2 linked regions of the Homo sapiens genome follow. The protein of the gene in region 2 interacts with the protein of the main gene of each other region in a biochemical or structural test. Each region holds a gene or a part of one and is shown on either strand. Other genes may lie near its edges.

What was found.
Region 1: the proteins of FGFR2 (region 2) and LRRK1 form a complex in vitro, tested with the Homo sapiens proteins (2 studies listed by BioGRID and IntAct, with this or other methods).

Annotation. Positions count from the first base shown.
Region 1 is NC_000015.10:100,922,330-100,929,356, reverse strand, and holds part of LRRK1 (leucine-rich repeat serine/threonine-protein kinase 1), read right to left. Parts: intron 4,847-7,027; 5' UTR 4,725-4,846; coding exon 4,628-4,724; intron 1-4,627.
Region 2 is NC_000010.11:121,588,425-121,595,451, forward strand, and holds part of FGFR2 (fibroblast growth factor receptor 2 isoform 1 precursor), read right to left. Parts: intron 5,835-7,027; exon of another isoform or gene 5,544-5,834; 5' UTR 5,451-5,543; coding exon of another isoform or gene 5,394-5,450; coding exon 5,285-5,393; intron 1-5,284. UniProt on the Homo sapiens protein: Tyrosine-protein kinase that acts as a cell-surface receptor for fibroblast growth factors and plays an essential role in the regulation of cell proliferation, differentiation, migration and apoptosis, and in the regulation of embryonic development.

The DNA.
Region 1 (7,027 bases), on a different chromosome or scaffold from region 2:
GGTGGGCAGTGCTCTGAGAGGTGTGTGACTGTGGCAGGGCTTTCAGGACCGAAGCGACGGCCACTCACAGAGAGCTGGGGGGGCGAGCCACTGCCTGGGTGATGTCTGCTCAAGTTCCACCCACCCTCCGCAATCCAGAAGTCTTCCCAAGTATTCTCCACCTGAATTATGTGGAAGTTTCCTGACTTCTCTACTTTCCAGGACAGCTCTCCTTGGCTGGCGGGACTGGTTTTTCCACTCTGGCTGGTGTCAGACATACTCAGAAGAATGAACATCTAATGACATGTTTGTCAAAGTAATGCGCGTCCTGCAGCCCATGCCCAGCATCTCATTGACAGCTGCTCTGTCAGCTGGCAAACTCTACGCCCATCAAAGCTTTCCAACCATTCCTCTTGCACCGCAGGCGAGCTGACTGCTGCTGGTGCTAATGAGGTTGAGATTGTCACACACCTTCCTGGGACACAATTGTGTTGCACAAACACACAGCGGGCCGCACGGCAGGGCAGACACACACAGACCCCAGCCTCACACCAGCTGGGCAAAGCCCCCCACATCCAGGGGCTTTGAAAGGATTAACCATTGTAAACAAACATGAGCTGAGGTCACGCAAGTCACAACAGGTAGGGGGTGTGAAAAGGCGTGCCTAGTACACAAATAAAAAATTAAAAATACCATTACCCCAACACCCAAGAGTAGACACTCTTTTTTAAAGTGTGGGTCTTTTTCTAACGCACACGTGGAAGTATAATAAGAACGTCGTCGTTTTCAATCACGTTATCTTCCAAGGATTTTTAAAGCATGAGAAAGCTGTCCCTACATAATTTTGAGTGTCGTTAGTTTTCCTTCTGGCGGCCAACTTTTCTCAGCCGGAGCTGGAAATTAGGCCTGAACAGTGTTCCCTGAGTGAGGCTGGTGGATTTGGGGGGTGGGAGAGGGGAAACAGGGCTCCCTATCATCCCAGGAAGTCTAGGAGAAGGTGGGATGGGACAAATCCAGCTTAGGCTCTGGGGACATGTGCAGAGGGTGAGTCCTGCGGGGGGATCAGCTGCAGTCATAGTAAGTCAAGTATTCCGCATTTATTCCAGAAAGACTTCAAGGCAAAGAGGCCAGTGGAGGCAGATCTAACTTTGGATGTAAGCACAGGAGGTTTACCGTTTAGATTCTAAACACAAATCATCAGTACTTAAATAAACAATAATTTAAAAATAACTTGCAATATTATTCGTCTGGATGCAAAAGAAGGCAAAACAAAACAAAAAGCAATGTGTAGATATTGCAGGAAACATAAACAGCACCGATGAGCAAAGCACAGTGACTGCAATCCCAGCACACAGACGTGGCCACACGCCACCCTTTGAGCATTACCTGCTCCTTGGCTGTAGTCTTAGTGTACACATTTATTAATATATTCTGCGAAAATGAAATCCAACATGCAATGCGTTAAAATTGGGCTTTACAGAGGGAGCACTGTAGGCTTTAGTCCCTGGAATTAATAACTTCTGTTAGTGAGCTCCAGGGCTGGGGCTCACAGGCTCAGTTCTGCTGGTACCACCTGTGGGACCTTAAAACTCTGAGTATGGGTATAAATTAGTAGCTTCTCACCAGATTCCTTATGAGGATTTGGTTATTATTGTAATTCATTAACATGTAACATAATTTTCTTAATGCTAAACAGGGGACAGAACTTTCTGGGGTGTTTCAGGCTATCTTCCTCTCCTCTTCAACTCTGTGTTCTCTGTATTAGGTCACTGCACAAACACCTCCCTCATTCTCAGGGGTTCCCAGGGTGTCACTTCCCTGTCCTGTCCCTACTTCAAGCTCCTTGAACAGTACACAGTGAAGGCTGCTGAGGTCACGTCAGGGTCCTTGGCCCTTGTGTGTGTCCCTTGGGTTATACAGAACAGGGATAGCAGGGATTCCTGAGATCCCACTGGGGAAAGAGGCCATCAGAGCAGAGTCAGGAGAGGACACCTCCTAAGGAGCAGTGCCAAGCTCAGATGCAGGCCTTTAGGGAGAATCATGGGGGCTGGGGAGTGCCACACTTTGGCCTTTCGGAACACCTTAACATTTTCTGGTTATCTGTCCTGCCACGAGCTTGGAGGTGGGGATGGGTTTGTCCAAAGCCCATTGCGCCCCGGTCCCTGGGACCTGTAAGAATCAACGGGGGATCCCTGGGGACCTAGAAACGCAGGCTGTCTGTGCCCCAGGCCTCCTGAATGAGATTCTGCATTTCATCAGGATCCCCAGGGGACATGTGCACCTGATAATTTGAGAAGTGCTGCTCTATGGGACTCAAACCATTTAGATGGCCTGATTCTCAACTTTAGCTACACGTTAGAATCACTAGGGAACTTTGAAAAATTAGCCATGCTGGCCGGGCGCCGTGGCTCACACCTGTAATCCCACCCCTTTGGGAGGCTGAGGTGGGTGGATCACTTGAGGTCAGGAATTCTAGACCAGCCTGGCCAACATGGTGAAACTTCGTCTCTACTAAAAATACAAAAATTAGCTGGGCGTGGTGGCGCACGCCTGTAGTACCAGCTACTCAGGAGGCTGAGGCAGGAGAATCACTTGAACCTGGGAGGTGGAAGTTGCAGTGAGCTGAGGTCATGCTACTGCACTCCAGCCTGGGTGACAGAGCAAGACACTGTCTCAAAAAAAAAAAAAAAAAAAAAAGAAAAAAAGAAAAGAAAAAGAAAAGAAAGAAAGAAAATGAAAAAGAAAAAATTACCCATGCTTGTTCACTCCCCGCCCCCCTGCCCCAAGATGCTGCTCCAGTGGGTCCAGGTGGTGCCAGGGCCCTGCCGGTTTGAGCCACTACCCAGTGACTGTGTGGGCCGTGGTTGAGAAGCACTCCTTTAGATCACCAACTGTTGACCAGGAGGGGAGGGAGCAGCGCCTCCTGTGGGCTTTTTCAGATGACACAGTCACCTACCCTACAGGCCCCAAACAGACCCAAGGTCCCTGTCCCCACCCTCGTCCCTCAGGGCTGCGAAGAGGAGCAGCAGGAGGATAAGGGAGCCTCACGTGCACTGGAAAGGTGGAGGTGCTACCCCCAAATCGGGGACTGCGTTCTATCACCCACGCCACCTCGATCTCACACCAACAGAGCAAGGTCTTCCTACCACACAACTGAAAAAAGACACACGTCTAATACAAAGAAAAAGAAAATTTACAAAGATGCAAGTTGAACACTCTGGAAAGATTTAGTGCTGGGCAATGTCAAGAAGCAAATTCGTTTCCCATTTCATAATGTGATGGATGTGAAACGACACCTTCCAGAAACATCACCCTGGTCAGCTGCTGGACATTTCAGATGGAGTGAAAACACTCAAACAACTGAACAAAGTGTCTGCCAAGCCAGGTACAGTGGCCGATCGTTAGTTAACACGGTTAAGGGTACAAACGTGGGCCTCTCAGACCCAACCTGTTGACCCTTTCACCTCCCATAGTGTGGCCTAGCATTTAAGAATGAGTGTTGCAGCATTAAGACAGGGTTCAGATGGCAATTCTGTGATTTCTGAGTTGTTGACCTTGAACACGTTTCCAGGCTTCTCTTACCCTCATGTTCCTCAGCTATAAAACGGAAATAAAAGTACCATGTGCCAGGTTGTCGTGAGGATTTTATGACATTATTTCGTAAAGTTCTGAACTTTGTACATGTAGTGCCTGGTACATACTAAGGGATTGACAAATATTTGTAAACGATGATATCCTATTGGTCTTAAAGGTGGTGCAAGTGTAGCGGAAAATCTGGCAAAATACGTGCCAAGAGCTTAACGATGTTCAAGACCAATCATTCAACTTCTGTAAACCTGCATTACAGAAATAACCTTGAAACCAGGTATGAAGAGATGGGAAGGAAATGCTCTCAGTAGGAGTAAACAACTAGAAGCAACCCAAATGTCCCACAGGAGAATAAGGATTAGGTCAATAACTGCACATAGCACTCCCGCAGATAATGATGTTTGTTTTGGTTCGGAGTACTGCCCAATTTATGAATCATTTTTTGATCCAATTATTAAATCGTAAAAAAATAAAATAAAATAAATGAAATGATGTTTCACTTGATTGCGGGAGCCAGGTGGTGCCCTAAGCAAATGTCACTGATGGACGGTGAAGAGAAAAAAGCAACATGCAACATTACATACACCTTGTAAGTACAATAAGGTTAAAACAAAGTCCCCTAAACACAGAGAAGCAGAGACTAGGAGAGAACATGCCAAGATGCTCATTGTACTTGTGTTTGAGATAGCGGGATTCTGGATGATTCCTTTCCCTTCTTCCTTTTTTTTAAATTATTTTTTTCAATTTTTCCTTAATAAACATGTATTATTTTTATAATGAAAAAACAAAACTACATCCTTTTTCTTAAAAGTTCTTTAACCCAGCATGAAGTGATGTCCCAATTGTTAAGATCTGTGAGTCCACAATAAATTTTGTACACTGTTCCTCAATTTTTAGAATTTAAGAGTCCCAAGATATATTATATGATGAAAGAGCACCAAATGATGGACATTTGATTTCCACTGGTTGAGAACTCCTTGTTCTTACATAGCCTAGACACCCTGCAGGATGAGCATGGCAGGTCACACCCAGGCAGGCATAAGCACAGCCCTGTCCTTACCGTTAAGCGTCTCCATGGCACGTTCTGGACACACAGCTGACTCCTCCGGCCCCACACACCAGTACATGCTGGGGGGTCTTTGCGACATGCCAGCCATCAACCCTTGCAGCAGCCGATCTTCAAAGGCAGGTCCCGCTGTTGTCACTGCCACTGCCGCTGGCTGTGGGGTGCATTAAGGCGTGGACTCGTAGCCATGGCTGAGCAGAAAGCTTTCTTGCTCTGGTGGCGAAAAACAATCAAAACAGAAAGCCTTTATAATTCCTGTCCTCCTCCCCTGCAAATATTTGCATGGGTTCATTTAGTTTTCCCTCTGCAACATTCCTTTTTGTAGTCCATCTATCCAGCCAAACCCATCAGGTGTGGTCAGTGGGAAGGCACAGCTCCCCCCATCCCATCTTGATGCGGGGCTCAGGTATTGTCTACCTGAGAAGAGTCTCAAACAAACCCCAGACAATTGGAAAACACATACTGGTAACAGCTTCAATCATTGTTCAGTCAACGCACACCTACTGTCACATGCAAGGTAGCCAGGCTCTGTGTGAGGCTCAGTGGCACCAAGATGGCTCAAGGAGGCTCTTGCCCTCAGGGGCACACTCCAGTGGGGGTAGGGCAGACATAGTTAAGGTTAGTCACGATACAAGGCTCTCCTTTTGCCCGGGGCCAGTTCTTCTGGAAGCCAGAGGTGAGCACGTCATCCCAAGGGGGTGGTCAGGCAACAGTTCCAAAGACATGGAATTATTACTGGTTATGAAGTCAAGTTAGCATGAGCTTTAGCAGAAAGCTAAATGACGGAGGTTAGCAGACATGAGCCTCAAAAATTCTGCCCCTTTCCCAGGGGACATTTGGCAATGTCTGGAGACATTTTTGGTTGCCACAACTTGGCTGGGGGAGAGTGCTACAGGCCTCTAATGGGTAGAGGTCAATGATGCTGCTAAACATCCTACAATGTACAGGACTGCTATTTGCAACAAAGAATTATCTGGCCCCAAAAGTTCCAGGGTGGAGTTAGACTAATCTCTGAAACTAATGACTATGATAAACTGAGACCAAGTGCTGCTCTTCTATGCTGGGCCCCCACTGAGCTTAGAGTCCCCCCATGGGCATAAGTGCCCATCCTGGTATGGTGATTGAAGGACCAGAGGGAGGGTAAGACCCATGCCTAGCTCAGGCCTGACATGAGGTACTACCATAAGTAATGCATGTGCGCCTATCCTTGTTCTTATAGCATATCCTACATGTGATGAAGTACGAGGTAATTAGCACCTCTTGTCTGTGTTCTCTCAGATAGACAACTCTGAAATGGGGAGTGATAGTGCAGCCAAAAATATATTTTTTAAATCAAGGTTATATAAAAATAATGCCTAAGAGAATCTGTACAGGCAAAAGCATAGCGTGGACGTTAAAGGTGTGGACTGCCTGTGTCACATGTTCGCAGTGTGACTCCCAGCTGAAAGGTATGTGTGTCTCAGTTTTCACCTGTTAAAAATAGACATCCACCCTTATGCCCGGGCCTGCTAGTGGGGTTACTGTGTGAATTCAACCAAAGTGAAGTTTCTGCAGCCTCTCTCTACGACAGGGCTGGGGTGGTCATTACCTGTAGTACCAGCGCACAGACTTGGAGGCCAGCGGGTCTCCCACTTCCCTGCTAATTAATAAGATCAGAATATCAATGCTGGAGGGCAGATGCCAGCCTCACCAGCGGGTAGGTTCTAGAAGATGCCGTGAGCAGTAGGGGCACGAAGTAAGGTACAGGACAAGGCTGTGGGAATTTCTCACCTAAAAGCCTAGAACTCAGGCACCTGGCCCAGGTGGACTGGACTCGTCAAGGCAGGGAAAGGTGGAGCTAGAAAAGCCAGGCTCCAGCAGCCTTGTGCAAGCTGCACATGTTTCAGAGGCAAAAGGGATGGTCGACACAAACCACGTGTGGGAAACACCTGTGTTTGAAGTTGGGAAGCCTGAAAAGTCGAAGGAGGAAAGGAAAAACGATCAATCTGGGCAAAATTTAGGGGATGATGAAAGCCTTATAAATAGCAAAACCTGATTTGGAAAATCAACTTGTGACAGAGAGAGGAAGAGCCAGCAAGACAGAATCTGTTTTAAAATAAACGTTCCGATCACACATTCACATCCAGAAACTGAGAAGCACAGTTGCCATCTGCTTTCAGACACCTCTCCAAAACAGCTACCGCACATAACCAACAGCATTTCAAAAATCCAAACGCTAGACATTCTTCCTGAAAACAGAAGTGTCTTACCATACAATGTTTTTAAGTTCTAAAAAAAAAAAAATCTTAAAATTATTTCAGGCTAACCCTCACCCAGCACATTTTGTTCCCCTTTTCATTTTCAGTTTCCTTTTGAAAATCACTTTACCAGTGGAAGACTCTGCCCCTGGAGCAG
Region 2 (7,027 bases):
CTTGGCCTCAAGTTCTTGACCAAACTACACTAAGAAGGCAAGTCAGGGAGGAAGATGGTGTGGTAAAGATGGGGTATGATTAGCAACACCAAGCATTTCAATGCTAGGAAAGCTAAAAAAAGTAGAGCCATCTCTAAATCTCATGGGATACAGCAAAAATCTCTAAATCATATGGGATACAGCAAAAAGATGGAAAAAAATGCAAAACTTAAGGCTAGGACAGGTGTGGTGGCTCACACTTGTAATCCCAGCACTTTGGGAGGCCAAGGCTGCCAGGAGTTGGAGACCAGCCTGAGCAACATGGCGAAACCCCATATCTACGAAATATTTTTAAAAATTATCCAGGCCTGTAGTCCCAGCTACTCAGGAGGTTGGAGGACCCCTTCAGCCCAGGAGTCCGAGGGTACAGTGAGCCACGTTTGACAATGCAGTGAGGGTACAATTGCACCATTGTACTCCAGCCTGGGTGGCAGATCAAGACTCTGTCTCAAAAAACAAAAACAAACAAAAAACCAAAGGCTAAAATCATCTCTCAAGGAAAAAAAAATAGAGACCATAAGCATTTTGCACAGTTGCATAAAACCTACTGGATCAGAATTATCTGTGGAATAGCCTAAAAAACTTCCAAAAAATAATTTCTGAACTGCCTACAGAGATGTCCCCCTGGCGAGAATCGGACCAGTACAGTGGAGAGTAGCACACCAGCTATATTTCCTACCTAGCTTAACAGCCAGGCACCCAAAAATCAATTTCCCATGTTTTCCTTTAATGACTAAAATTCGCTTCCATGGAAATGTAAGGGTAAGCTAGATTAGAGGGAGTTTTTAACAATTACCCTGGCTAAACAAACACCTAAACAACAGTCTGCAAACTGGAAGACTAGTGGATACATTTTATTGAAACTACGAACATTAAACAAAACACTTCCAGTTTAAACACGACCCCAGTTATTTCATAGCCATGTAATTATTTGTTAAGTCTGATATTAAAAACATCTCATATTGGATTGCTGTGGTTTTGTGAATTCTCACCCTCAACTGGGTCAGAAAGACTTGAAAGGAATAAAGTCTTTACTTATGGCTTGATGCGGGGCCATTGGCATAGTAAGTGCTCTGTCTTTTAACTGGTTGAAATAAACAGACAAAACAGAAACACACACATATACCCCAAATTTGAATCAGAGAGAGCCAGTATAAAATGATACAAGTACCAGTTCTCTGGGCTTGCCAGATTTCTGCTCTATAAGTAATATTAAACATGGCTCTTGGTCTATGAATTGTGAAACACTTTATATACTAATAAAGAATGTGTACTTCATTGTGTATTTAACTGCGTAAGCCTGTATTTGGTTTAATTGACCAAGAATAAGTCCTTGTTCCAAAGCTAACTATCAAGTTACAGTCAACTCTTAAATATTAACACTCATATTGAAAAACAAAGATGCAGATAATACGAAACAGAAGATTATTTTAAATCATTCACTCTTGGTATGCGGATATATTCTTTCTTCCTTTCTTTTAACTTGCAATTAAATGCGTATGGTTAATATTATGGCATTTACAATACTTCTAACAAAGGACTTAAACCATACTGGAAAAATCTGACTTAGGGAGGTCTCTGTGTAGATCCTGTCCTCGACGTTTCTGCTACTGAACTCTGGACCAACTCACGTTGGTCCAGGAGAGCATCACCTCTCAGAAGATTGACAAAAAATTGCTACACAAACTACATTTTTTTTCAGGTTGTTACTTTTCAGAGTCACACTCTGTGGAGGGTGGGAAAGTAATTAAGGGTGTAGGGTTGAAAAGCCCTTTCATTTTAGCTCCTACTGGGTTGGTGTAAACAAAGATGCCATTAATGTCAACAATGACTTAATTAACCAGAGTAGGTGACAATGTCAGGAAGAACTTGAAAGTAAGAGTTGCCCCCTCTCAGGGTAATCAAGCTTGACTAGACTTCAAATATTTATAATGTTAATCAACAGAATAGTACTTGGCATTGAGGACTGCCCCCCTTCGAGTCAATAACCATGTTTTCACTCCTCTGCTGGTGCCCTATAACAATGAATGACCAAAAGGAAATTAACAATGAATGACCAACTGGAAAACTCATATTTAATCTGAAATATTAAAAACTAAAATCTTCTAGAGATTATTTTCTTAAGTCAATTGAGTGGGCCCAACCCCACTGCTACTATTTCAGAACGTGTCCAGAAGACAAATGATATATATGATATATGATATGACATATGATATGATACGATATTGCACAAAGCCAAGATGACTAAACATAACCTTTCCCTGAGGGGCCAAAAGAAAAGGACCCTCTAGTGTTAGGGCCCAGGCTTCTTCCTGGAACTTCTCAGTCACATTTTTCTCCTATCCAATAGACATTATCTAAACTGAGCTTCCAAATAAATTAGCAAACCAAAAAGTCTTACAAGATAAGACCTTGGTGCACAGAAGGTCAAGGTGGAACTTACTGCTAACCAAAGCTATAGTAGTTCTAATCATGGAGAACTGATGGACAGGGGCACAGGCACGCACGCACGCACGCGCACTCGCGCACACACACACACACACGCACACTCTCTCTCTCTCTCTCTCTCTTCCAATTCACCAGCACAGAGCCTAAACCTGAGCCCATTTTCAGCTGTTAAAAACTCCTTTCTCATCTATAATTCAATGACCTTCCTAATCACCTCTGACACCAAAGCGAACTCCTGCAACAGAAGAACTGGTCTTAGGGCTCAAATCAGTGGCCAGTATTAGACTAACAGATGAGGGGAAGTGGGGACCCTACAGAAAGCAAACACAGCTTCCTGGAAACACCAAGGGCCTCCTCCATCCAAAAACAACTTTCTTCTCAACTGTCTCCAAAAGCCTAGATGTTTTTTGACATTGTGGCACCTGGCACAGCCAGCCCACGGGACTGGGAAGACCCATGTTCCCAGCTCCCTGGCGACAACGGCGACAAGGCCATGCACCCGGTGCTTACTGGATGCCAGCCCCTGTGCTAATTGCTCTTTATGTCCAGGTCAAATGGAAATCTCCTAACAACCTTTTGGTGGAAGAGTCAGAAGACTTCTGAGGACATTAATATTCAATGACTATTAATGAAGAGACCCTAAAGATCATCTTCTTAAGCCCTCAGACGACAGAAAGGGAAACTGAGGCCTGGGACTTGTATACTTTTCCAAAGCCTCTTCTTTGCCAGGTTTTGCACCTTCCTCTAAGACATCTTTTCTTTTCCATCTCATAATTCTGGATGCAAATGAACTCATAGCTCATGGAAACTATAAACCCATAAAAATGCACAAAAGGACATTAACAAAATATTACCTAAAATTTCCAGAACTTCATCGACCTCCTTCCTGATCCATAAGTGCATCCACAGATCCCAGGTTGAGCAGGCCTGCTTCCAACAATACCCACATTGTTGGATGTAAATTCTTACACAAAGACTCACTCGGGGAACTTCGTCCCTTTCCACGATTTCTTCCCTCTGCCTCACCTGTCCCTCCCTGCATGTATACACAATTTTAAACTTCCTTCAAGAATTAAATACAGTAAAACAAATCCTCTGGGACCATTTTACACTTTATGTTGAAATAAACTCACAATAACGCTGCCCTGAAAAGCCAAAATGAAAAATGACAGTTTTTCCCTAACCTGGGTTGCTCCTAAAGCCCACACCGTAGGAAATCCCAGCTCAGCTTCCTCAGTTTTTGCCGAGCCACGCACTCAAGGGAAAACCAGCAATCACGGAAACATCCATTTTAATTATTAGCAAAATTAAAGACGTACAGGCATGACTTTCAGAAACCAGGAACTTTTTCCCTCTTACATGAAAGCCCTGTAAAAATGCATCACCACTGCAAATTACACTCATCCTGGTGTCCCAGCACAAATCACCAAGAGGCAGTTCCATAATCGGCCTGTAGCTGTAGCTATACAAGCCTCAGACACAAACTCCTACCAGATTCCCTTCCCAGAGACGCAGGGAGATGTCACCACACCTGTTAATTATAGAGCTGCCATCCCTCTGTGTAACGAAAAGTTCCCCAGTCTCACACGATTGCTTCAGGTGATAAGTGCTTCGGTCCTCATCCTTCAATGACAAGTGCCTGGGGTCTTCCTGGGGAGCCCATGTCTCTCAGAACTCTCATCTCAGATGGACGCAACCCTCCTTCCTAAACTGTCCTGATCCAGCTAAGGAGGCTGGGCTCTCTGTCCTCTCCCAGCCTACCCCACTGGGTAAGTGTGCTGTTCATTCACCCCACGCACGAGATGTGTTCCCAGAGCAGCTCAGCTTACCCCAGACACCACTCGGACTGCTGCGGGTTCCTAAAGCCAGGCAGGCACCAGGTGGACTCTCCACAAACAGGTTCATTAAGTGGCGATGAGTGCTGGGATCTGCCGTTTTATTCTCGGATTACCACTCGAAAAATAACTCAGCTACCAATATTCCCTACTGATGACAGATTTCAGTGCAGCACCAAGTAGAGGCTTGGCTCACGTTGTCTCCAAAGGGCTGGGAGAGAGGTTCCAAATCTGCTAAGCTGAATAATTCAGCCTCATGTAGTCCTCGTAATTGGACTTACACCTTGAAAATTAAATTTCCAAAGCTGTGACACCGGCGCATGCCCTGTGATACTTGGAGGTTCTCGGAGCTGGAGGAGATCCCCTGGCACATTCACTTTCAAGTTTACCTAAACTAGAATCTGCCACTCTGTGATGATGCATTGCTTAAGTATTATGAATTACAATGGCTAAAAAAAAATTCTGAGATGTCAAGCCTCTCTCTCTGTGCTAAACTTCAGAAACTTCTTTTCTCCTTAAACAATGAAAATAAGATGTCAGCATTTCAGATGTTGGCAATTTCTTTTAGTGGTTCATCTTGTCCGAAAATAGCAATTCTTTACATTGTAAGCAGTAGGAATGATGCTGGGGGAGACTAGAGATGACATTCATCCTCCCAAGGTTCATCCCTTCCACAGCTCTCTCGGGCACTGGATAAAGGCCAACTCCCAGCTGTCTCCCTCACCCAGCACAGAGAAACACACACAGCAAGAAACCACCAAACTATACCATCCTGCCTGCAGTGCTGCGGCAAAGGACCTTCTCTCATCAGCTCTGCCTTGCCGGGAGCCAAGAGACCACGATCTGGTGCTCTTAGAAGCCCCATTTACAATGCAAGGGTAGCTGATTCTAAAACAGGCCTTAACAATCTGCCCCCAGACAAATCCCAAAACAAACCTGAAAAGTGAAATTAAATGACTTACCTTCTGGCTCTAATGTGGTATCCTCAACTAAACTGAAGGAGGGCCGGGCCAGGGACAAGGTTGCCATGGTGACCACGACCAGGCAGATGAAACGACCCCAGCTGACCATGGTTACGGTACCAATCCCCGGTCCTCTTCCATATCTCCATGTGGACGTTAATCCCATCTGCACACTTCCTCTACGGGCATGGACTACGCGCAATGCCTTCAGCCTGCGGTGGGCTCAGGAACCGAGGCGCTGCCGCTGCTGCTGCAGTCACTAAAGGAAAGAGATTGGCGAGTCAGGGAATCTTCCCCAATGCCAAATCACTCCAGCCCAAGTGGGATAAAACCATTTTTCAGCCTCTCAAATGTGCGCAAACAGAGTTCTTTTTCATTATCTGCTAAATCCTTCCATCCTCACCTCAGAGTCCCAGGTGATACCACCAGACCGGTCCACAGAAATGTGTGAGGCTAATCTTTTTAAAAGCATACTTTTAAGAAACAGAGATAAAACAGTAGCTACAGGACTCAGATACGTGCAGCCACTTCAGTGAGGCAATGTGTGCTCTCTTCTACTATCCACTATCGCCTCCACCGCCCTCAATGAGCAGAAGCAACGTGACCTTAGTTTCAAGGGCAACTACAAAAGCAAGTTAAAAATGCTCGGGTTGGCATAACCAACCTCGTTCCCTTCTCTTAGTCCAACTGGGCTTTAGAAAGCTAAACTGTTGGAGGAGTCTGCTCACAGCTCCGTATTTCTGCTGGGCTGGAGGTGAGCAGTCTCCCACCCTCACTGTCGCTCTTGGGAAGAAAGGAGACCAGCAAAATCAAAAGAATCCCAGGAAGGCTACAGAAAATTCCCACCAGTTTACACTTGTCAGGATTCATTTTCAAATGGAGAAGTGTCTTTCAGTCTTCCGCCAAGCAGCCACTTACGAAGAGTGAACACAACTGCAGCGCATTCAACGCAGCTGATCCAAAAAGGACTTCGAAGCCTGAATTCCCTTCCCCTGTGACTAAATGGCAGTCCAGGGCTGCTAAATGTCTTCAACCTCTGTAGAAGGGTGAGGAAACTGAGCAGATGCAAATTCTGATGAATAATGCAGGAATTTATTAATAATGATGATGTAAATTATGTAAATTATAGTCATGGTATGTGATTGGACCAATAACTTTCCATATGCAAACCTACTGGCTAAATTTTCAGAGTATAAGTTAGAAGAGGACACTCAACTTAATATTCTGTTCACCCATTTGATCCAAGGGAAAGAGAATTTTCCAAGAAAGCTTAATATATTCCAAGCAACTTTAAATTCACTCAGTACTCTCTGTGACTAAGGGTACAGTAAAATGCACAAACTTTAGAGAATGATTAAAACAATCACAAGAAGGGGCTCATCAATCTCAGGCTTCAGATTCTGTGAACCACAGGAATGAACCACATTTTCTAAGACTGGGGGTGGCAGGGAGGCCTTTAATACAAAAATCTCTAAACTCTACATTTTTTATGTACCCACTCGATGTTTCAAGTTATGTCATAGGATTTCAACACTGCTGGAGCCTCCCCAAATCTCATCATAAAAACTGCTCCTTTTAGCTTTGACTGAGGACAAAAATGGAGGAGGGAAAAGAATATGCCACATCATTTCCAAAGGAGGAATAAAGAAAACCTCTGCTTCAAAGATAGCACAGGTGAAACGGTGTGATTCACAGCAAAAGCAAGAAAAGTATGTGTGCAGTGTGTGTGTGTGTACACGGTGT